Regions from separate parts of the Homo sapiens genome. Here regions 1, 2, 4 and 5 are each reported to be linked to region 3. The links are microRNA targets in miRTarBase. Many come from high-throughput screens and were not tested one by one. Region 3 holds a microRNA gene; each other region holds the end of a gene's coding sequence.

Region 1 (4,000 bases), not on the chromosome of region 3:
CAGTGGAAAGTCAACCCTTATTCAACATCAGGTAACTCACACTGGTCAGAAACCATGTCATTGCAGTGTGTATGGGAAAGCCTTCAGCCAGAGTTCACAGCTCACACCACCTCAGCAGACTCGTGTTGGAGAGAAACCTGCTTTAAATGATGGCTCTAAAAGATACTTTATTCATATCAAGAAGATTTTCCAAGAAAGACATTTTTAATGTGATAAATGCAGAAGACAGTTTAGCAACTGTTCACTTGACATTAGAAGATAAGATGGCATAATGAAAGATATATAAGGTCTAAATATTACTGGCAAAGTAAAATAAATAGTTCAGATGACTACTAAAGTCAAAGTCATTAAATCTGGAAGTAAACACGAGAATTCATTCTGGGAAATCAGGCTGTCTGTGTAAAGGTTACTGCTGTGCTCAGGAGTTGAACCGTGTGGTGCTGTATCCGGATACTCATGACGAATGGATGGAGGGCGTGAAAAGTGAGCCCAGCTGGTGCTCTGGGTCTACCCTACCTGACATCCTTCCAGTCTTATCCTTTGTTTCCTATCCAGGCCCAGGCTTGTGGCTGAGAACATCCACTTTCAGTCCCATATACCTGCCTCCAAGTGTGGTACAGAGAACTTGGGCCTGCTGGGGGCGCTTAGCCTTACTCTCTCCACCACCTCTCCCACCAACCCCCAGATGAACTGCAGGTAGACGTTTCTTCCTTGCTTGGAGCCCCAGTTTTTGCATTTCATTTTCATTAAAATGAAAGGTGGTTTGGTTTTGGTTCTAAGGAGCTCTACAGTTTAACAGAGAGAGGGACCTTAGGGGCCAAGAAAGCAGGGGCCTACCAAGTATCTCCACTTTTGAAAATTGTAATTACTGATAAAAAATTTTTTAAAGGCAGGTTTATTGAAGCATAATTTATAAACAATAAAATTTACTCTTTTTAGTGTATAGTTCTTTGGGCTTTGACAAAAACATACAATTGTGCCACTACCACATTCCAGACATTGAACATCTTCACCACCACCCAGAATTCCTTTGTGCTCTCTTGTGGTTAACCCCTCCTCAACCCCAGTCCGTGGAAACCACTGGTTTGTTTTCTATCCTCTATCCATCACCTCACCATTTCCAGAAATAGTGTGCAGCTGTTTGCACGTGGCTGCTTTTACTGAACATGATGCATTGGAGTCATCCATATTGCCTGTGTAGAGTGCTTTTTTGCACCGAGTAGCATTCCATTGTATGGATGGAGCCATTTGTTTATCCGTTCACCCATGGCAGGGTATTTGGGCATTTTCAGTATGGGCAACTATGATTAAAGCTGCCATCACTGTGTATCAACTACAGGCTGTTTTGTGAATCTAACTTTTCAGTTATCTTGGGTAAATAGGAGTGGGATTGCTGGGTCATATGGTAAGCTTATGTTTAACATTTTAAGAAACTGCCAAACTTTTACAAAGTCAGTTGTATATCCCCACTGATGATGTGTGAGTTTAGTTGCTTTGAATCCTCACCAGATCTTGGTATTGTCCTTTTTTTTTTTTTTTTTTTTCCGAGGCGGAGTTTTGCTCTTGTTGCCCAGGCTGGAGTGCAATGGCGCGATCACGGCTCACCACAACCTCCGCCTCCCGGGTTCAATTCAAACGGTTCTCCTGCCTCAGCCTCCTGAGAAGCTGGGATTAGAGGCATGCACCACCACGCCCGGCTAATTTTGTATTTTTAGTAGAGACGGGGTTTCTCTATGTTGGTCAGGCTGGTCTCCAACTCCCGACCTCAGGTGATCCACCCACCTCAGCCTCCCAAAGCGCTGGGATTACAGGCATAAGCCAACGTGCCCAGCAGTATTGTCCATTTTTTAATATTCTAGCTATTTTAGTGGAGATGTAGTGGTATCCATGGTTTTAATTTGCATTCTCCTATTGACCATGGTTTGATCAGTAAGCATCTATTTAAAGAGTTTCATTGGGAAGTTTGAATAACACTGTAGTAGTTTCTCAGAGTGTGATCACCTGTGAAATTCTGATCTTCAATTCTTTTTTTTTTTCTCCTTTTTTCTGAAACAAAGTCTCGCGTTGTCACCCAGGCTGGAGTGCAGTGGCACGATCTCAACTCACTGCAACCTCCGCCTCCCAGGTTCAAGCGATTCTTCTGCCTCAGCCTCCCGAGTAGCTGGGACTACAGACGCGTGCCACCACGCCCAGCTAATTTTTGTATTTTTCTTAGAGACGGGGTTTCACCATGTTGGCCAGGGTGGTCTCAAACTCCTGACCCCATAATCCGCCCTCCTCAGCCTCCCAAAGTGCTAGGATTACAGGTGTGAGCCACCACGCCCGGCCTCTGATTTTCAATTCTGAGACTCTACCTGCAAGAATCTTTTTTCTTTTCTTTTCTTTTCTTTTTTTTTTTTTGAGACGGAGTCTCATTCTGTCGCCCAGGCTGGAGTGCAATGGCGCAATCTCTACTCGCTGCAAGCTCCACCTCCTGGGTTCACACCATTCTCCTGCCTCAGCCTCCCAAGTAGCTGGGACTACAGGCGCCCGCCACCACGCCCAGCTAATTTTTTGTATTTTTTAGTAGAGACGGGGTTTCACTGTGTTAGCCAGGATGGTCTCAATCTCCTGACCTCGTTATCCGCCCGCCTCGGCCTCCCAAAGTGCTGGGATTACAGGCATGAACCACCGTGCCCGGCCAAGAATCTTTTTTCAAATCTACCTTTCATTCCCTCCAGGTCTAACTGAAATATTTCCCCCCTTCAAGGAGCCTACCTTAGTTAATCTCTCATTCCATCTTTGTTTTCTTTTTTTCTTTTGAGACAGTGTCTCACTCTTATCACCCAGGCTGGAGTGCAGTGAAGCGATCACAGGTCACTGCAGCCTTGACTTCCTGGGCTCAAGCAACCCTCCGACCTCAGCTCCCAAGTAGCTGGGACTACAGGCACACACCACCATACCCAGATAATTTTTTAATTTTTTGTAAAGATGGTGTCACACCATGTTGCCCAGGCTGGTCTTGAACTCTTGGAGTCAAGCGATCCACCCACCTTGCCCTTCCAAAGTGCAGGTCTTACAGGCGTGAGCCACGGCGCCTGGCCTTACTGTTTTCTTAGGGAATTTGGGGTCACCGCTACATTTGGTTTAACATCCATTCTGTGATTTGCTGCGCTTATTCCCCCGCTCAGGTTCTGTCTCCCCCACTTTATTATTAAAATTCTTATCACAGAACCTCTTCCAAGTGTGGGAATTGCCAGCCTTAGTGTGGTCCATGTGGAATGGTCCACACAAAAGAGGGAGTGGATAGCACAGGCTCACCTGGAGGGTCCTGTCTCCCTCTGAAATGGATTCACTCTGACCTCAGGGAAAACACTGAATCTTCTTGGGTCTCTTTTTCTCCAGCTCTAAAATGGGGGAAAAAAACACCTCCCCCACGTCTAAAAAATAACTCTTTTACCCTTGTATCCCACAGCACAACATTCATATCCCCACCATTTCAACTTACATTTTCCTTTCTACCTCGTTACCCTACATTATACGGAGAACTCTCTGCTGTCAGAGATGTTGTCTTATGCACCTTTTTATCTCCAGCACACGATACAGAACAGGTGCTTAGGATGTACTTGGGAAGGAAGGAAGAGAGGTGAAGGAGGCAGAGAAAGGAAACAGTGCCAAGAATGTGCTTTGCGTAAATGTGAACCTTGTGTTCTGCTTCTGCTCTGTCCATGAGCACACTGGGTACATTAAAATTGTTTTCTCCTTCTGATCTACTGGAAAGGTCCCACAATGATGCCTCCCTTAAGAGGCCCACAGGCCTCACATTTACGTAGAATGGAAGGAAGCACCGGGGCATGGGAGGGCTTGTGGGTGGCTCTAAGGGCTGTTGTGACACGTACTTGCTGTGGACCCTGGGACTGAGGATGTTAGTAGGACAATGCATGGTTAAGCACCAAGAGAGCAAGGGAACACCTCAGGGGTAAAAATGAAGACCGAAATGAAAGTCAGAGCTTCCCACCTG
Region 2 (4,000 bases), not on the chromosome of region 3:
GGGCAACAGAGCAAAACTCCGTCTCAAAAAAAAAACAAAAAAAACCCCAAAACTTGAGATTGCAGTGGCTGCCAGTCGCTCCCATCCCTAACCCTGTTCATCTCAAGCGTGGCTGTTCCTGCCCACACTGCATCCTTGAGGACACCACACCAGGAAGCGTCAGGGCAGGGTGATCTTCAGTTCTGAGTCACTCAGGCAAATTATTGAACCTGAGGGGGTGGAGTCATGGGAACCCCTGAATGTGTAGTTGGCCAGGAAGTGTGGGTAGCCCAGGAAGTGTGGGTAGCCCAGGAAGTGTGGGTAGCCTGGGCACCCCATCTGTGACTCCATCGGAAGTGTGGGACTGAGCCCTTTAATCTGTGGAACCTGACACTAGCCCCAGTTGGTGTCAGAGAGCTGGAAAAGTGGTGTCAGACAACACCACACAGTATGCAAGGCTGAGGGGAAACGCCAGTGTAAAAATAACACGTAACAAGTGTAGGTGGTTTGGGGCCAACAAAGCCCGGGAGGGCTCGGGTTTAGGGTCTGTGGAGCACTGGGGCCGGGCAGGATGGCTGTAGTGCTGTGGAGAGTTGAGGCTGCCTTAGGGATGATTTGGGGGTGAAGATAGGCCTTGACCTGAGCTGGGTTTGGAGGGAGAATTATTAGTGGCCTGATGGGGTCTTAGACTGAGGGTCGAGTGTGTTCCTTCCTTCCTGGCTGGGTGAGCATCTAAGTCACTGCCTCTCGGAGGCTCACGTCCATAACAGTAAAGCAGGGATGGTCTTGGCCCTCCTGGAGGGCTTCCTGCAAGGGTGTTGGTGAAATGTGTTTCTATTTGTGAAGCTGTGCTAGTGCTGTTGCCATTTTCATGAGCAGTTACCAATCAACAAACACTTGTAGCCAGCCCTGCACCGGGCCCACGATCACCCAGGGATGAAGTGGTGACCGAAAGCAGGAACAGGCCGGAGCCTTCACCAGCTAAGAGGTGAGACCCTCAGCTGGGGCTGAGACCCAGCCTGGCTGTATCTTCCTCCCCCTGCCACTGTCCCCTCTGGTGTTCTGCTGGTGGCCCCTGCTGCCAATTCCTGCTCCTCACGAGGGCCCCTGCTCCCTGGTCTTTTCTCCAGACTTCCTCATGGTTGGCACTTGGGATCACCAGGCTGCGGGCTCACCTTCAGCTGCCTGCATTTGAGCAGATTCCATGCCAGCCCCAAGCACTAGAGGAAGACACCAGTGAGCGCCGGCATAGGCCGACGGGCTACCCTCCGTGGCAGCTGCTCTTTATCTGAGCAATGGGCTTCCACTCACCTTCCCCTGCCCCTGTCCTGCCCCTGAGGAGAGAATGATGATCATTGTGTCACTCAAGTACCTTTGGGACCTCTTGCTGCTTCCTCTCGATGGTTTGAGTCCAAAGCCCTGGGGTTTGGTTTTCGTTCGGCCCTGGAGAGTTGGTGCTGGCCTCTCAAGTTCTGGGCCCCTGGCATGGGTGAGCCTTGGGAGGTGGAGGCACCTCCACCTGACCCTGCAGTAGAGGGTGCCCTGGGCCTGCTCGTCTTAAGACCTTTCACTTGCAGGTGCAAGGCGGGTGGAGCTGAGGCAGGAACCGGGGTTGGCCCTACACAGCTCCCTGCTCCTCCGCACCACTGCAGCATGGATGGGGCAGGCCGAGCAAAGCCACAGCCAGCACAGCCCTCTCTGCTGGTCTCGCCCTCACCTGTGATACGCCGCGCGTAGAGCCCCACTTCATCTTCCTCTTACGAGAAAAAGGATGGTGCAAGGGCACTGGAAAGGCCTCGGCGTGAGTCCTGGGGTGGTGAGGACTGTGGCAAACTGGAGGGTGTACACCCCATGAAGAGATTTGACATCTCTGTGACTCCATTCCCCCCAGGTAGAAGTGAGGACCTGGCATTACCAAGCTTTGACATTTTCAAGAGAAGCAGGGCATCTAGATTTTAATGTGGTAAACGATGTTGCCAATTTAAAAAGATGGGCAACCGATTTAAATTTCTAAAACAACACTGGGTGGACTGGTTACAGCCTGTGGTACCACAAGAGAACAATCTCTGCTTTTGTCTCATGCCCAGGCTCCTGAGAGACACCAGGCCAGGCCCTGGCAAGAGAGGGGAGAGTGGGTATGAGACAGCGTCTGCCTGAGCTGGTCCCATCCACACGCCTGCAGCCTGGCTCTCCTCTGCTTTTTCTGTTTCCTCCCAGTCAGTGGTTCTGCCTGGGCCTTTCTGCCTCCAGGGCCGGGGAGGCTGCCTGAGTGTGCCCCTCATCCTCTGCGACGGTTGACTGCCCTGAGCCAATGCAGGCAGTGCCGAAGGACCCAGTCCACTCACACATTCTCAGACAGCTCTGCGCACAGTGACTGGGGCCAGCTCTTGAGTCCTGGCATCCAACGGCAGGTGGCAGTGCCTTTCCAGTTGCTAGAACAGGCCCTTCCCCACAAAATCACAGGCCTTCAGCAGCAGAGGCGCCCTCTGCCTGCTATGATGATGGTCACGTCACAGCGTGGACAATGTGTTGGGCATCAAATACCAGATCTCAAAAGGGGAAGGAGGGTGGGTCACAGAGCGGAGGAAAGACTTAGAGAATGAACATCCCAGGACCCTGTCTTAGTAACCTCCGACCAGCACAGAGTGGGTTCTAGTAAATACTGCTGAATCGATACTGTGCCATCTTGCTTGAGACGAGAAAATAGGATGGACAACCCCACCCCTCAACTGCAGCAGCTTCGTTCCTTCTTGAACTATCTACCTGCCAACCCTAGATGCCTGCTGAGAGGTCAAAAGGGAGCAGGAGTGGCAAGACTTCCCCTCCCGCCCCTAAGCCCATCCTTCTCTGCAGACTTGACACACTGCACACTCCACCTGTCCTGGCTGACGGTGACCCAAGAGCATCCTTGCCCCTGAGGCTGGGCATGGGGTCCACATCTGGTAGAAAGGTCCCAGTGCTCAGTCACAGCCTCATTCTACCACAGATGGACTGACAAGTCAACTTTCTGATGCAGTTCCCAGAGACCTCAGGATCCTGCCTGTGTGTAGAGTCCCAGGCCAGGACATTCATTTCCTCTCAAGGACATCACACTCATCCCTTCCCGGAAAACCATTTTAATTATAATAGCTTACACAGGCTGCAGAGAGGGAGACGCAGAGCCGGACCTGACGGGCTGTGCTTTCAAAACTGTGCAGTCTCCTTCCTGGCTCTGAACAGGTTAGCAAGAGTTCCAAGAGGCCTCAGGCCTCCAACCACAAAGGCAGAGAAGTTAGCCCCAGAAAGCTGACAGCTGAAGGCGGGGAGGCTGAGAGTGCTTGGTGTTTGACAGATGAGTGTTGTGGTGGGAGGAGTATGGAGTCACACAGAGGCTCCACCCAGCAAGGCCTCTGGCCAGGGGCTATGTTTAAGGCTGGGGTCAGGCAGAGGTGGGAGCCGCAGGGGAGAGAAGTCTGGCCGGCAAGCCCCAAGGGAAGGACAAAGGCACTGGGGCAGATGTGACCGTGGACAACCGCAGTGCAGGCAGGGCCCCTACAACGCTACAGCAAGCAAGGCCGTCCACGAAGCTCCCTGAGCTACATTCTAACAGAATGTGGATGTGGGGCTGGGTCAGCATGTGGCCCCACCATCTTTAGCTCAGTGGCAGTTCTGACAGCTTGGGTGGCAAGGAATCCCATTTACCCTGCAGCGGCAGCCCCCGCTGGTGTCTCCTGGGCCCTAGAGGATGGGAGGAAGAGAAGAGAATGTCAGCGCAGTGCAGAGACTGCCCCCACAGCCGAGCGCTCTCCCACCCCGGGCCTTTGCCTCTGCAGGTCCTCCTGCAAGAATGGCCTGGTCAGCCTCAGCTACCTGATGGAGAGTCACTGAGGCCTTTTCTGGGCTCCCACAGCACTCAGTCTACCCACGCCTAGATCCGGGAACAGGCCAGGGAGAGGATCTGACCACTCTGCATATTCTAGACATGTCAGCATGCGAGAGGGCAGTTTCCTCTGCCTCCACCTGTCTGAAAGTCTACCTGAAC
Region 3 (4,149 bases):
CGCCACCACAGTTGGTTAATTTGTTTTGTTTTATTTTGTTTTGTATTTTTGAGATGGAGTCTCACTCTGTCGCCGAGGCTGGAGTGCAGTGGCATGATCCCAGCTTACTGTAGCCTCCACCTCCTGGGTTCAAGTGATTCTTCTGCCTCAGCATCCCGAGTAGCTGGGACTACAGGCACGCGCCACCATGCCTGGCTAATTTTTGTATTTTTTGTAGAGATGAGGTTTTGCCATGTTGGCCAAGCTGGTCTCAAACTTTTGGGCTCAAGTGATCCACCAGCCTCGGCCTCCTACTAAAGTGCTGGGATGATAGGTGTAAGCCACTGCACCCGGCCATCTGTTAGCTTTTTAGAAGAGAGTTTGTCCAGGTGCAGTGGCTTATGCCTATGATCCCAGCACTATGGGAGGTGGAGGCAGGAGGATTGCTTGAGCCTGGGGATTCCAGACCAGCCTGGGCAATGTAGCGAGATCCTGTCTATTTAAAATGTAAATCACAATAAACAAAAGAGAGGTGCAGCAAACTCTAGCAGGTCCAGGTCCCTGCAGGTACCAGGGGAACAGGAGACCCCAGTGATGGTCAGGGCCTTGTGTTGAGAGAGCTGACCAGCAGGCCCTGGGCTCCCTGGAGTGGTGCTCCTGGCCCATGGTCTCTGGGAAACCCAGCAGCACAAACCGCTTTGCAATGTGGTCAGCGTGAGGCTTTTTGGTTGCAAGTGGGTGGCAGGACAGAATCAGCTTGGAGACATTGCTTTGGCGTCTTTGAAACCAGAGAGGCTTCATGCCTTTTGGAAGGAGGATCTGGAAAGCAGTGGGAACTTAGGCTGCTGTCTGGTGCCTTCAGGCGTCAGCTCCTGCTTTCCTCGTGGGGCTGGTGGTGGTGGAGCCAAGTGGTGTTGGGGGTGGTGAGGCGGTCAGGGGGTGGTGGTTGGGCCTGTGGGTTGGCTTCAGGCCCCCAGTAGTGGGGAGAGCCACCGGCTCCAGCCCTGTTCCAGGTGCTGCTGGTTGGGTGGGGGCAAGCAGCAGGTTTTCCCTGCCCTTCTCCTGGCCCCCAGGGGTTGAGCTGGACTGACCCCTGGTATGGAAGCCTGGTAAGTTGGAGGCAGGGCTAGGCCAGGTGGGTATGGAGGAGCCCTCATATGGCAGTTGGCGAGGGCCCAGTGAGCCCCTCTCTGCTCTCCAGGTGGACCGGGTCAGCTACCTCCTGCAGGAGATCTATGGCATTGAGAACAAGAACAACCAGGAGACCAAGGTGTGTATCTGGGTGAGGTTTCCCTCTGCCATTACAGAAGCCCACACCAGGAGCAGCCGCGGACAGCAATGCTTGCCGGTTCCCTTCCATGCCTTCCCCTGGAGTCCTAGACCCGCTAGACAACATCATTTTTCCTTAATTTTTTTTAAAGCTAACAGTTTAGGGAACATTTTATCCTTTCTCCAGCAAATTCACTAGCTTCTGATGTAAATTGCCATCCAGGTTCCCCAGGGCAGCCCAGGAATGGGGGCCAGTGTCTCACCCTCTAGGCTCAGGTGTGTGGCACCCTGCTGCCCGGCTCCTGCCCGCCTCCCCAGAGACAGCACGTCCCTGCAGCTCCTGGGGGAGGGATGCTTATTCTGTATGTCCATAGAACCAGTCCTGGTGCCTGACAAATAAGCCGTGGTGTACCCCAGTCAGGGAATGTAGCAGGGGATGAAATTAGTTTTTTTTGTTTTTGTTTTTTGAGTCAGTCTCACTCTGCTGCTCAGGCTGTAATGCAGCAGGGAGATCTTGGCTCACTGTGGCCTCCGCCTCCCGGGTTCAAGCGATTCTCCTGCCTCAGCCTCCTGAGTAGCTGGGACCACAGGCACGCGCCACCACACCCGGCTAATTTTTTGTATTTTAGTAGCGACGGGGTTTCACCATGTTGGCCAGGATGGTCTTGATCTCCTGACCTTGTGATCCACCCTCCTCGGCCTCCCAAAGTGCTGGGATTACAGGCGTGAACCACCGCGCCCAGCCTAATTTTTAATTTTTGTATTTTTAGTAGAGATGGGGTTTCACTATGTTGGCCAGGCTGGTCTCAAACTTCTGATCTCAAGTGATCTGCCTGCCTCAGCCTCCCAAAGTGCTGGGATTTCAGGCCTGAGACCACCACGCCTGGTCGATGAACTTGTTAAAAGGCACACTGACATGAGTGAAACTCCTGCCTCTTAAGATCTCTTGGAAAGTCTCACAGGCCCGCTTCATTATGGCATCTGGGCCCAGGACAACTGGAGCAGCTCCACGTGGCGGGAGCGGAGCACCTGGCCGGGCCTCGCCTCAACCCAGGGAAGTCAGTGCATTCATGTTTCATACCAGGGGGCGGCCCACTTTGAGAAAAGGTTCAGAGAGGGAATGTTTTCAGCCGCCCGGGCATATGGTCTCTGTTGCACTGACTCCACGCTGCCATTACAACAGGAGCAGCGGGGACTGTATAAAAATGAGTGGGTGTGGCGGTGTTCCAGTAAGATTTTATTTATAGAAACAGGCCACAGGCCTAGTTTGTGGACACCTGTTTTAGATTTTTGGCTTTCTTTTTGTCCAGTTGCTAATGTGGTTTCTGGTAGCTGCCATTAATGAAAATACTTCTAACATATTAACTTGTTTTTTGTTTTTTTTGTTTGTTTGTTTTGAGATGGAGTCTTGCTCTGTTGCCCAGGCTGGAGTGCAGTGGCAGCCATCTTGGCCCACTGCAAGCTCCGCCTCCTGGGTTCACGCCATTCTCCTGCCTCAGCCTCCTGAGTAGCTGGAACTACAAGCACGTGCCACCATGCCCGGCTAATTTTTTGTATTTTTAGTAGAGACGGGGTTTCACTATGTTAGCCAGGATGGTCTCGATCTCCTGACCTCGTGATCTGCCCGCCTCAGCCTCCCAAAGTGCTGGGATTACAGGCGTGAGCCACCGCGCCTGACCATTAACTTGGTTTTTTTTAAACCAAAGATAACGGGTACCCTGACCCTCAGGAAGATGTGTTTCTTAGGTGCATCTGTTCCTCATTTTTTCTTTAGGTCTGAAGAACAGAAAGAGACCATGTTCTCATGATTTGGGTGGGTGAGGGGCACAGACCCTCCCCCTCTGCCAGGTGCTGAGTTTGCACTGGATTTGAGCCTGGTGATTCTGCTCTGGGGCAACCTCCCCCTCCCCTCTGGACTTCTCTTTGTCATGACAGCCCCCAGGGTAGGGTGGAGTGGGGTGGGACAGCTGGGGACAGGAAGCAGGAGCCGTACTCTGGCCTTTGGGAGGCTGCTGACCCACAAGCCCTTGTCCCGGCAGCCCTCGGACGACGAGAACAGCGACAACAGCAACGAGTGTGTGGTGTGCCTGTCCGACCTGCGGGACACGCTGATCCTGCCCTGCCGCCACCTGTGCCTCTGTACCTCCTGCGCCGACACGCTGCGCTACCAGGCCAACAACTGCCCCATCTGCCGGCTGCGTGAGTTCCCCGGCCGGCTGTTCTGTGGAAGGTTCTGGAAATTAGGGACTGGCCACACCACGGTGGTCCTGGGATAGGGGGCCACAGGTCCGTTGATGGCTAAGAAAGAAGAGTTGTCATTCATCTAGTCTGTGCTGAACGTGGGCGTGTTGGCTGTCGGAGTCAGTCACCGTGAGAGAGCTGGCAGGGACGCTAGCACGGGGCATTCAGATCTTCACGTCTGCCTCCAGCCAGGCAAGGCTTGCAGAACAAAGGGCTACAGAGGCGCTCCAGGGCAGATGAACTGAACGAAAATTGATGAGTGAATGAAATCTTTATTCTTATTTTATTTTTATTATTTTTTGTTTGAGACAGTTTCGTGCTGTCGCCCAGGCTGGAGTTCAGTAGCGAGTTCTCAGCTTACTGTAACCTCTGCCTCCTGAGTTCAAGCAATTCTCCTGTCTCAGCCTCCCTAGTAGCTGGGATTGCAGGCAACTGCCACCATGGCCAGCTAATATTTTACTTTTATTAGAGATGGGGTTTTGCCATGTTGGCCAGGCTGGTCTTGAACTCCTGGCCTCAAGTAATCTGCCTGCCTCAGCCTCTCAAAGTGCTGGTGTTACAGGCATGAGCCACCATGCCTGGCTATTTTATTTTATTTTATTTTTTTGAGATAGAGTCTCGCTCTGTCACCCAGGCTGGAGTGCAGTGTTGCAGTCTCGG
Region 4 (4,000 bases), not on the chromosome of region 3:
GGCCAAAACCTGCTCAGATCAGAATGGGGCCTGAGGACACTTCTCAATTCATTATCTCCACCTGGCCCAGGAACTGCATCGGGAAACAATTTGCCATGAACGAGCTGAAGGTGGCCACGGCCCTGACCCTGCTCCGCTTTGAGCTGCTGCCTGATCCCACCAGGATCCCCATCCCCATTGCACGACTTGTGTTGAAATCCAAAAATGGAATCCACCTGCGTCTCAGGAGGCTCCCTAACCCTTGTGAAGACAAGGACCAGCTTTGAGGGCCTCCACCTGCCGTCCTGTCTTCCTGACCCCCGCTTCTGTCCCCTTCCTGTCTGCCCATATCCTGTTTTCTGTCTGCCCACCTTCCCTTCTTCCCACCTGCCTGCTGTCCCCCAGTCTGCCTGCCCTTCTCTCTCTCACCTTTCTCCAGGCTCCCTACCTGCTTGTCTACCTGTCTCCTACCCACCTGTATCTCTTGTTGGGAGAAAAGCTGAGTGTTGGGAGAAGCTGAGGCCGAGCTTGCATGTCTGACATAATGTAAAAGAGTCTTGGATCATGTCCAGGATCCAGGGTCTAAAACCCCTTGTGGCCTTTGGAACACCAAGCTCTGTGCTGAAGGGTGGAAGGCTACCCTGACGCACCATAATCTAAGCCCGGGGCATAAAACCCCTCGTGGCTTGGATAGAATCCAGGGCTCGTGGCTCTGGAATGTGTCTGAACTTGCTGCCTCCTCGCTCCTTGCTCTCCCAGGATCAATTGTATCTTGAGTTAAAAGAACCTGCTCTCCATTATCTCAAGTAGCAGAGCAGATGCTAAACCGTCACAGCTGTAAATCATGTGCTTAATGCAACATGCCCTTTCGACCCCCACATTCTCACCACCTGTTTCTTTGTTTGATCACCAATAAATAATCTGCACTTCCAGAGCTCGGGGCCTTCACAGCCTCCATCCTTAGCTTTGGCGCCCTGGACCCACTTTCTCTCTCAAACTGTCTTTTCTCACTGCTTTGACTCTGCCGGACTTTGTCACCCCCACGACCTGGTGTTGGGTCTGAACACCCCAACATCCCTGAATCTCCACCCACCTCCCAAACTCCTGCCTGCCCTCCAGACTGTCTGCCCATACACCTGTCTCCTTCTTCCTGCCTGCTTGTCTGTTCCTATATTAGTTTCCTATTACTGCTGTAATAAACTATCACAATCTCAGTGATTTTAAATAACGACTTTTATTCTCTTACAGTTATGGAGGTCAAAGTCAGATATATGGGTTTCACTGAATTAAAACAAGTTCTGGAGAGGGCCAGACCCCCACCCCCAGAAGGTTTCAGGGAGAGCCCTGCCCCTTGGCTTTTCAGCTCCAGAGCTGCCTTTTTTGCATTCCTTGGTACGGTCCCCTCCTTCCTCTTTAAAGCCAATGGCATCTTCAAATCTCTCTCTCTGTGACTGTCTTCACATCTCTTTCCCTCTTATAAGGACCCTTGTGGTTAGTTACATCAAGCTTATTAAGATAATCAAGGATAATGTCACCACCTCAAGATCCGTTACTTACTCAAAAGTCCATTGTGACATATGCAGTCCCACAATCACAGGTTTCATGAATTAGGATGTGGACAACATGGAGACCCATTGTTCATCCTAGCACAGCCCCTACCGGATTGTCATCCAATGTGTCCATCTAAATCTCTCCTGTATGCTACCTACCTACATACGTGATTGTCAGCCAGACAATCCCTCTATCTTCCCTCTTCTCTAGAATAAGGTTCACAAGCTTGCATGCTTTGTCCAGCTTCACATGGAAGGTGATAGGGTTAGAAGAGGAGACACTAAGGCAGGGAGATAAATCCCTACTGAAGAGGGAAAATGGAGATGAGGTGTGCCCAATTGTGCCAGAACCCTAGCAGGGCCTGGTTTGATCCATCCCCCTGCACACAGCCTCATACCATGTCTCCCCTGGTGCCCACACCCTCTCCAGCTCCTGAGGCTCCCATGGTAGCTGAGTTTAGACAAACGATATTTATCTAGGAGATCAGAGGGAGAAGCTCACACCTGTAGGGAAAAGACTCCAGGCCTCCATTCCATTCAAGATTTAGATTCAAGATGAATCACAGCAAGGCTGAGCTAAGGGCCTGCCTTGCTGTGTTTTGTGTTACTGTAACTGAATACCCAAGGCTGGGTAATTGATCTAGAAAAGAAGTTTATTTTGCTCATGATCTGGTGGCTGAAAAGTTTAAGTTTTGGCAGCTAAATCAGATGAAGGCCTCATGCAGCTTCCACACATGGCAGAAAGCAAAAGGGGAGTGGCATATGCTGAGATTGCATGGTGACAGAGGAAGCAGGAGAGAGACCAAGGAAGCAAGACTCTGTTTTGATCCCGATGTCTTGGAAACCTGTCCATTCCAGATACAGCTAAAACTCAAGCCTGTGAGGTGGAAGGGGGCACTAATCTCTTCATAAAGGATCTGTCTCCACGATCTAAATATCTCCCACTAGGACCCACCTCCCAACACTACTGTGTTGGGGATCAAGGCTTCAGGAGTTTGGTTGGGAACATCCCACATCCCAGCTATAGTGAGGCTGCACTGAGCTGAGCAAGAAAGCCTCAAAGGCCTGGTCTGTCATGAGGATCTTGTAAATTCAGCTATCCACAGCCCCAGTGAGGTGTAGAAAGAGACCCCAGCCTAGCAACGTCACCAGGTACCTGTCAACCTTCCTCACATACGGAACCTGCAGGCTTCTCTGGAAGCTCATGGAGTGGGCAGCTGTCCAGTCAGGGGTGGGAGGAGCCCAGGTAGGCAAATGGGTCTGGCTGGTGGAAGAGGCTGTCAGACCCCAAGCAGCTCCTTCCCAACAGCACAACTTCTTGGTTGTCGTCTGCCTCTCTGGCTGGCCACCCTGATGGGGTAGGGGCATCCTCAACCCTGTCCACACTTGGTGACTGCCTGGGTGCTGGTAGTGCTGACCCTGGGCCCTGTTCCAGCACCCAGGCCCCATGTACTACCCCTGGGATAGTGTCACTGATTGTCCCAGCCTCTCTCAATGCAGACCTTGCTTCTCTTCCTAAATCTGAACCCAGGTGTTCCTCTCACCTGTTGCCCATTCCTAGCCCAGGACCTTGGATGCCATAGAGAGGAATTCCTCTGCCTGAGGTCTGAAAGCTCATTCTGTTACCCTGAAAGAGCTTCTCTTCTAGTTTGTGCCTGCAACTAGGACCTCCCTCCAAGTCCCCTGAGTTCCCCGGTCATTGGATTAATTCAGCCCTGCTCTGAGAACAGGCAGGAAAGGGGAGGGCTGGACAGTCGGTAATCAGCCAGGAGTGGAGGGAGATGGAAACACTGGGAAAGGAGAGTGACCTGGGAACCTCATGGACAGGATGGCCAGCCAGTCACCTGGCATCAGGGGATTTACAAGGGCTCATGTTGGCCATACTCAAAGACCACAGGACAGTGTGCACTCACTCCCATTACTACCCCTAATACCTGGTTGAAAAGATGAGGGGAAGGGAATCATATAAGTGAAAGTCTCATTGCAATTGGAGAGGTGGAGACCTCAGAGTGATCAAAGAGATAGGGAAGGTGCACAAGGAGGGAGAACCTGAATATCTCTATGTAAAAGAATGATGTTGAAGTTTTACATACATGATATACAAACTAAAAAAAAAATGGATAGAAGGATTGAAAGATAGCCCACAGAATGGCAGAATATATTCACAAATCAAATGAGAACATGTAAAGGACTCCAACACACAACAACAAAATACTACAATCCCATTCAAAAATTCAAAGGACTTCAATAGAAACTTCTGCAAAGAAGATATGCAAGTGATCCATAAGTGCACCTGGAAAGATGCTCAACTTCATTAGTCATTGGGGAAATGCAAATCAAAACCACAGTGAGATACCACTTCATATCCTTTAGAAAGGCTATAATTATTTTTTAATGGAAAATATGAAATATTGGACAGAATATGGAGAAATTGAAACTCTTATGAATTACTGGTGAATGTAAATTGGCGT
Region 5 (4,000 bases), not on the chromosome of region 3:
TTTGAATGTAAAGAATGTGGAAGATCCTTTAGAAATTCCTCATGCCTTAATGATCACATTCAAATTCACACTGGAATAAAACCACACAAGTGTACTTACTGTGGGAAAGCCTTCACTAGATCAACTCAACTTACTGAACATGTAAGAACTCACACTGGAATAAAACCCTATGAATGTAAGGAATGTGGCCAAGCCTTTGCTCAGTACTCGGGCCTTTCTATACACATACGAAGTCACAGTGGAAAGAAACCCTATCAGTGTAAGGAATGTGGGAAAGCCTTCACTACATCCACAAGTCTTATTCAGCATACAAGAATTCACACAGGAGAGAAGCCTTATGAATGTGTTGAATGTGGGAAGACCTTCATTACTTCTTCCCGTCGTAGTAAACATTTGAAAACTCATAGTGGAGAAAAGCCCTTTGTATGCAAGATATGTGGGAAAGCATTTCTATATTCCTCACGCCTTAATGTTCACCTGCGAACTCATACCGGAGAGAAACCCTTCGTATGTAAAGAATGTGGGAAAGCATTTGCTGTTTCCTCACGCCTAAGTAGACATGAAAGAATTCACACTGGGGAGAAACCCTATGAATGCAAGGATATGAGTGTTACCATTTAGCCCATCGGTTGCCATCTTTAATTATTGGCAATGACACCAAAGATTATCAGATTTGTCCTAAATGCCTTTTGGAGGTTGTAATGACTCATGGATTGGCCTTAGATACCATCCTGAGGGTCTGAAATTAAACCTACAGGTTCTGAATACAACATCATGGTTGCCTGAGTCTGGGCATCTGTGAAGAAGGGTCATGGATGGTGAGGTCAGTACTGCAGGCTGCCTCACCTTGGTGATTAGATTCCTAAGATCATAGCATTAACAAGTTGTGTATGAGATAAATCATGCAGATTGACCCCAGCCCCTGTTGGTTAGTGGCTGCCAGTGTGGCACATTTATGTCAAAATTTACCAGAAGCCAAGATGATGTAGGACCCCAAAGGTGGGTTGTTAAGAGATGCTCCTCCAAGGGTCTCTTCTGATCCCACGGATCCTGCAGAGCGTGTCAGGAATGAAACCATCCATAACTGCCAGTGCCCTTTCACAGCTGATTATTTCTGTGTCCCCTTGTAAAATCTAAGAAGTGTGACAGCCTTGCCTGTTCTGCCTTGTATGTCTATTTTAGATGGCACAATGTAAGTGGCAATGTCTCTTCTAGTATAATCCAGTCTCTCTTCTCACTTCTGTCAAGGTGGCTGATATAGTCCATGAATCCCACTCATGATCTCTTTATCAGATGATCGTTCAGCCACACTTTGAGGATTCTCTTCAGTACAAGTTTTCTAATTTTTGCATTATGGATAGGCTGAGAATTTTCCAAATCTCCAAGTTCTGGTTCCTTTTTCCTTAACAATTTTTTCTGCAATTCAGGTCTCCTTTTGCATTTTTGCTGAGACCAGCTGGGTCATGGAGACCCTGACCCAGCAGCTCTAGAGGAATTAAGACAAAGACACAGAAATAGAGTGCAGAGTGGGAATCGGGGCTCACAGCCTTCAGAGCTGAGAGCCTTGAACAGAGTTTGACCCACATATTTATTGACAGTAAGCCTGTGATAAACATTATTTCTATAGATTATAGATTAGCTAAAAGTATTCCTTACAAGAAAGAAAGGGACAGGCTCTGGCTTGTTATCTGCAACAGGAACATGTCCTTAAGGCACAAATCACTCATGGTATTGTTTGTGGTTTAGGAATGCCTGAGCAGTTTTCCAGTTTTCCACCGTGGGTGGGCCAGGTGTTCCTTGCCCTCATTCGGGTAAACCAGCAACCTCCAGCATGGGTGTCATAGCCATCACGAGCATGTCACAGTGCCGCAGAGATTTTGTTTATGGGCAGTTTCTCATGGCCTGTTTATGTCCAAATTTGGGGGGCCTGTTCTGAGCACATTTTCCTGTAAGCACTCAGGAAGAATGAAGCTTCCTGTGTCCTTTAACACTTTAAGTACAGATCTTAGTGATACATAACCAGTTTTATCTCTCTCAAGCTCTACCTTCCGCAAAGTGCTAGAATACAGTTCTGCCAAGTTCTTCACTACTTCGTATCAAGGGTTGTATTTTCTTTATTTCCCAATAGCATGTTCCTCATTCCCCAATGACACCTCACCAGGATCACCCTTACCAACCTTACTTCCAGCTTGCACATCAGAATTTTTCCAGCCTCATTTGTCAGTTTCAAATCTGCTTCACATTTTTAGTTTTTTTGTTTGTTTGTTTTTAATCTGCCTTAATGAGCTCAGGCCACTATCACAAAATACCACAGACCAAATGGCTTACAAATTTGTTAATTTTAAATAAATGAGGTTAAAAACAAATTTATATTCTCACATTTCTCGAGGCTGGAAGTCTGAGATCAGAGTGCCAGCATGGTCAACTTCTGGCGAGAGCTCTCTTCCTGGTATGTAAATGCCCACTTCCTCATGTCTTCACAGGAAGGAAACCAACAAATAGGTCTCTCTCTCCTCTCTCCTTTCTCCTCTCTCCTCTCTCCTCTTTCTCTCTCTCTCCCCACCATCTCTCTCCTTCCCCTCCCTCCCCCTCCCTCCCCCTACCCATCTCTTGACATCATTTCACGATACTTCTAAAGAGCCTATTTTCAGGCCGGGCGCGGTGGCTCACACCTGTAATCCCAGCACTTTGGGAGGCCGAGGTGGGCGGATCACGAGGTCAGGAGATCGAGACTGTCCTAGTTAACACGGTGAAACCCTGTCTCTACTACAAATACAAAAAATTAGCCTGGCGTGGTGGCGGGTACCTGCAGTCCCAGCTACTCGGGAGGCTGAGGCAGGAGAATGGCATGAACCTGGGAGGCACAGGTTGCAGTGAGCCGAGATCGCAGCCACTGCATTCCAGCCTGGACAACAGAGCGAGACTCTGTCTCAAAAACAAAACTAAAAAACCCTATTTTCACATACAGTCACATTGGGATTTGGAGCTTCAACATATGAATTTTCAGGGTTATCATTCAGTCCAAAGTACTTAATATGATTCTTTTCCGTTTCCACATAGACAATCACATAATCTGTAAATAATGACTCTTACTTTTCCACTTTAGTCGTTAGGTTATACCTATATATATATTTTCTTGCTTTACTGGACTAATTTCAACCTCCAGCACACCACCAATGAATAGCAGTAATACCAGCATAATTGTCTGCAGTTCTGCTGAGATACGTGCTCTATTTTATTGGCTTGGCTGTAGGTTTTTATTTTATTTTTTGAAGAGGCTAATCTCTTACAGGAAAGGTTTCTTTTTATATCCAGTTTTTACATGATGAATGATTTCCCAGTATTTCATAATTCATGAGGCTGAATTCCTCTTGAATTTATTAAATGCTTCCTGTGCATCCTCTGTGATGATCATGTTTATTTACTGCTAGAACTCAAGTACCTAGAACTGTTCCTGGCCAATGATGGTATGTAATAAATACTTCAATGAAATGATGTGGTGATGCATGTCTATAGTTCTAGCTACTTGGGAGGATGGCCTGAACCCAGGGGTTCTAGACCAGCTTAGACAACATAGCAAGACCACATCTCAAAAAACAAAAAACAAAACGAATGAATGAATGCATGGAAGGACTCATCTCTAAAATAAATGTGGTCAGGTTGGGTGTGGTGGCTCATGCCTGTAATACCAGCACTTTGGGAGGCAGGGATGGGCAGATCACTTGAGGTCAGGAGTTCGAGACCAGCCTGGCCAACATGGTGAAGCCCCATCTCTACTAAAAATACAGAAATTAGCTGGGTGTGGTTGTGTGCACCTGGAATTCCAGCTACGCAGGAGGCTGAAGCAGGAGAATCGCTTGAACCTGGGAGGTGGAGGTTGCATTAAGTGTAGATTGTGCCACTGCACTCCAGCCTTGGTGACAGAGTGAGACTCCATCAGAAATAAAATAAAATAAATGTGTTTTTGTATTTATTACATTTCTAGTGTTACATCAACCTT

Evidence for each region. Region 3 holds the annotated microRNA hsa-miR-6769a-5p (AGGUGGGUAUGGAGGAGCCCU, at 1,113-1,133, shown strand). A microRNA usually pairs through its seed, bases 2 to 8, with sites in the 3' UTR of a target mRNA and lowers its output. Matches are read on the target gene's strand: a 7mer-m8 pairs with bases 2 to 8, a 7mer-A1 pairs with bases 2 to 7 and ends in A, and an 8mer does both.
Region 1: miRTarBase lists ZNF251 as a target of hsa-miR-6769a-5p. Seed matches in the 3' UTR shown: 7mer-A1 at 671-677.
Region 2: miRTarBase lists RBCK1 as a target of hsa-miR-6769a-5p. Seed matches in the 3' UTR shown: 7mer-A1 at 3,321-3,327 and 7mer-m8 at 2,546-2,552.
Region 4: the mRNA of CYP4A11 is a reported target of hsa-miR-6769a-5p. Seed matches in the 3' UTR shown: 7mer-m8 at 449-455 and 7mer-m8 at 1,067-1,073.
Region 5: the mRNA of ZNF561 is a reported target of hsa-miR-6769a-5p. Seed matches in the 3' UTR shown: 7mer-A1 at 2,559-2,565.

The regions. Positions count from the first base shown.
Region 1 is chr8:144,717,852-144,721,851 of GRCh38, reverse strand. It overlaps ZNF251 (zinc finger protein 251), which reads left to right. Exons shown (of 5, transcript NM_138367.2): 5 at 1-943. The coding sequence ends at 208. Among named protein-coding and RNA genes, the nearest start is that of ARHGAP39, 34 kb to the right of the region's middle.
Region 2 is chr20:430,046-434,045 of GRCh38, reverse strand. It overlaps RBCK1 (RANBP2-type and C3HC4-type zinc finger containing 1), which reads right to left. Exons shown (of 12, transcript NM_031229.4): 12 at 1,907-3,696. The coding sequence ends at 3,616. Among named protein-coding and RNA genes, the nearest start is that of RBCK1, 24 kb to the right of the region's middle. RefSeq lists enhancers at 3,075-3,575, 3,576-4,000.
Region 3 is chr16:4,670,211-4,674,359 of GRCh38, forward strand. It overlaps MIR6769A (microRNA 6769a), which reads left to right and starts at 1,108; the gene lies at 1,108-1,180. MGRN1 (mahogunin ring finger 1) reads left to right here. Exons shown (of 17, transcript NM_015246.4): 9 at 1,181-1,249; 10 at 3,288-3,447. RefSeq lists enhancers at 2,858-3,447, 3,448-4,035.
Region 4 is chr1:46,926,381-46,930,380 of GRCh38, reverse strand. It overlaps CYP4A11 (cytochrome P450 family 4 subfamily A member 11), which reads left to right. Exons shown (of 12, transcript NM_000778.4): 12 at 71-1,193. The coding sequence ends at 266. Among named protein-coding and RNA genes, the nearest start is that of CYP4A11, 13 kb to the left of the region's middle.
Region 5 is chr19:9,606,821-9,610,820 of GRCh38, reverse strand. It overlaps ZNF561 (zinc finger protein 561), which reads left to right. Exons shown (of 6, transcript NM_152289.3): 6 at 1-3,492. The coding sequence ends at 621. Among named protein-coding and RNA genes, the nearest start is that of ZNF561, 12 kb to the left of the region's middle.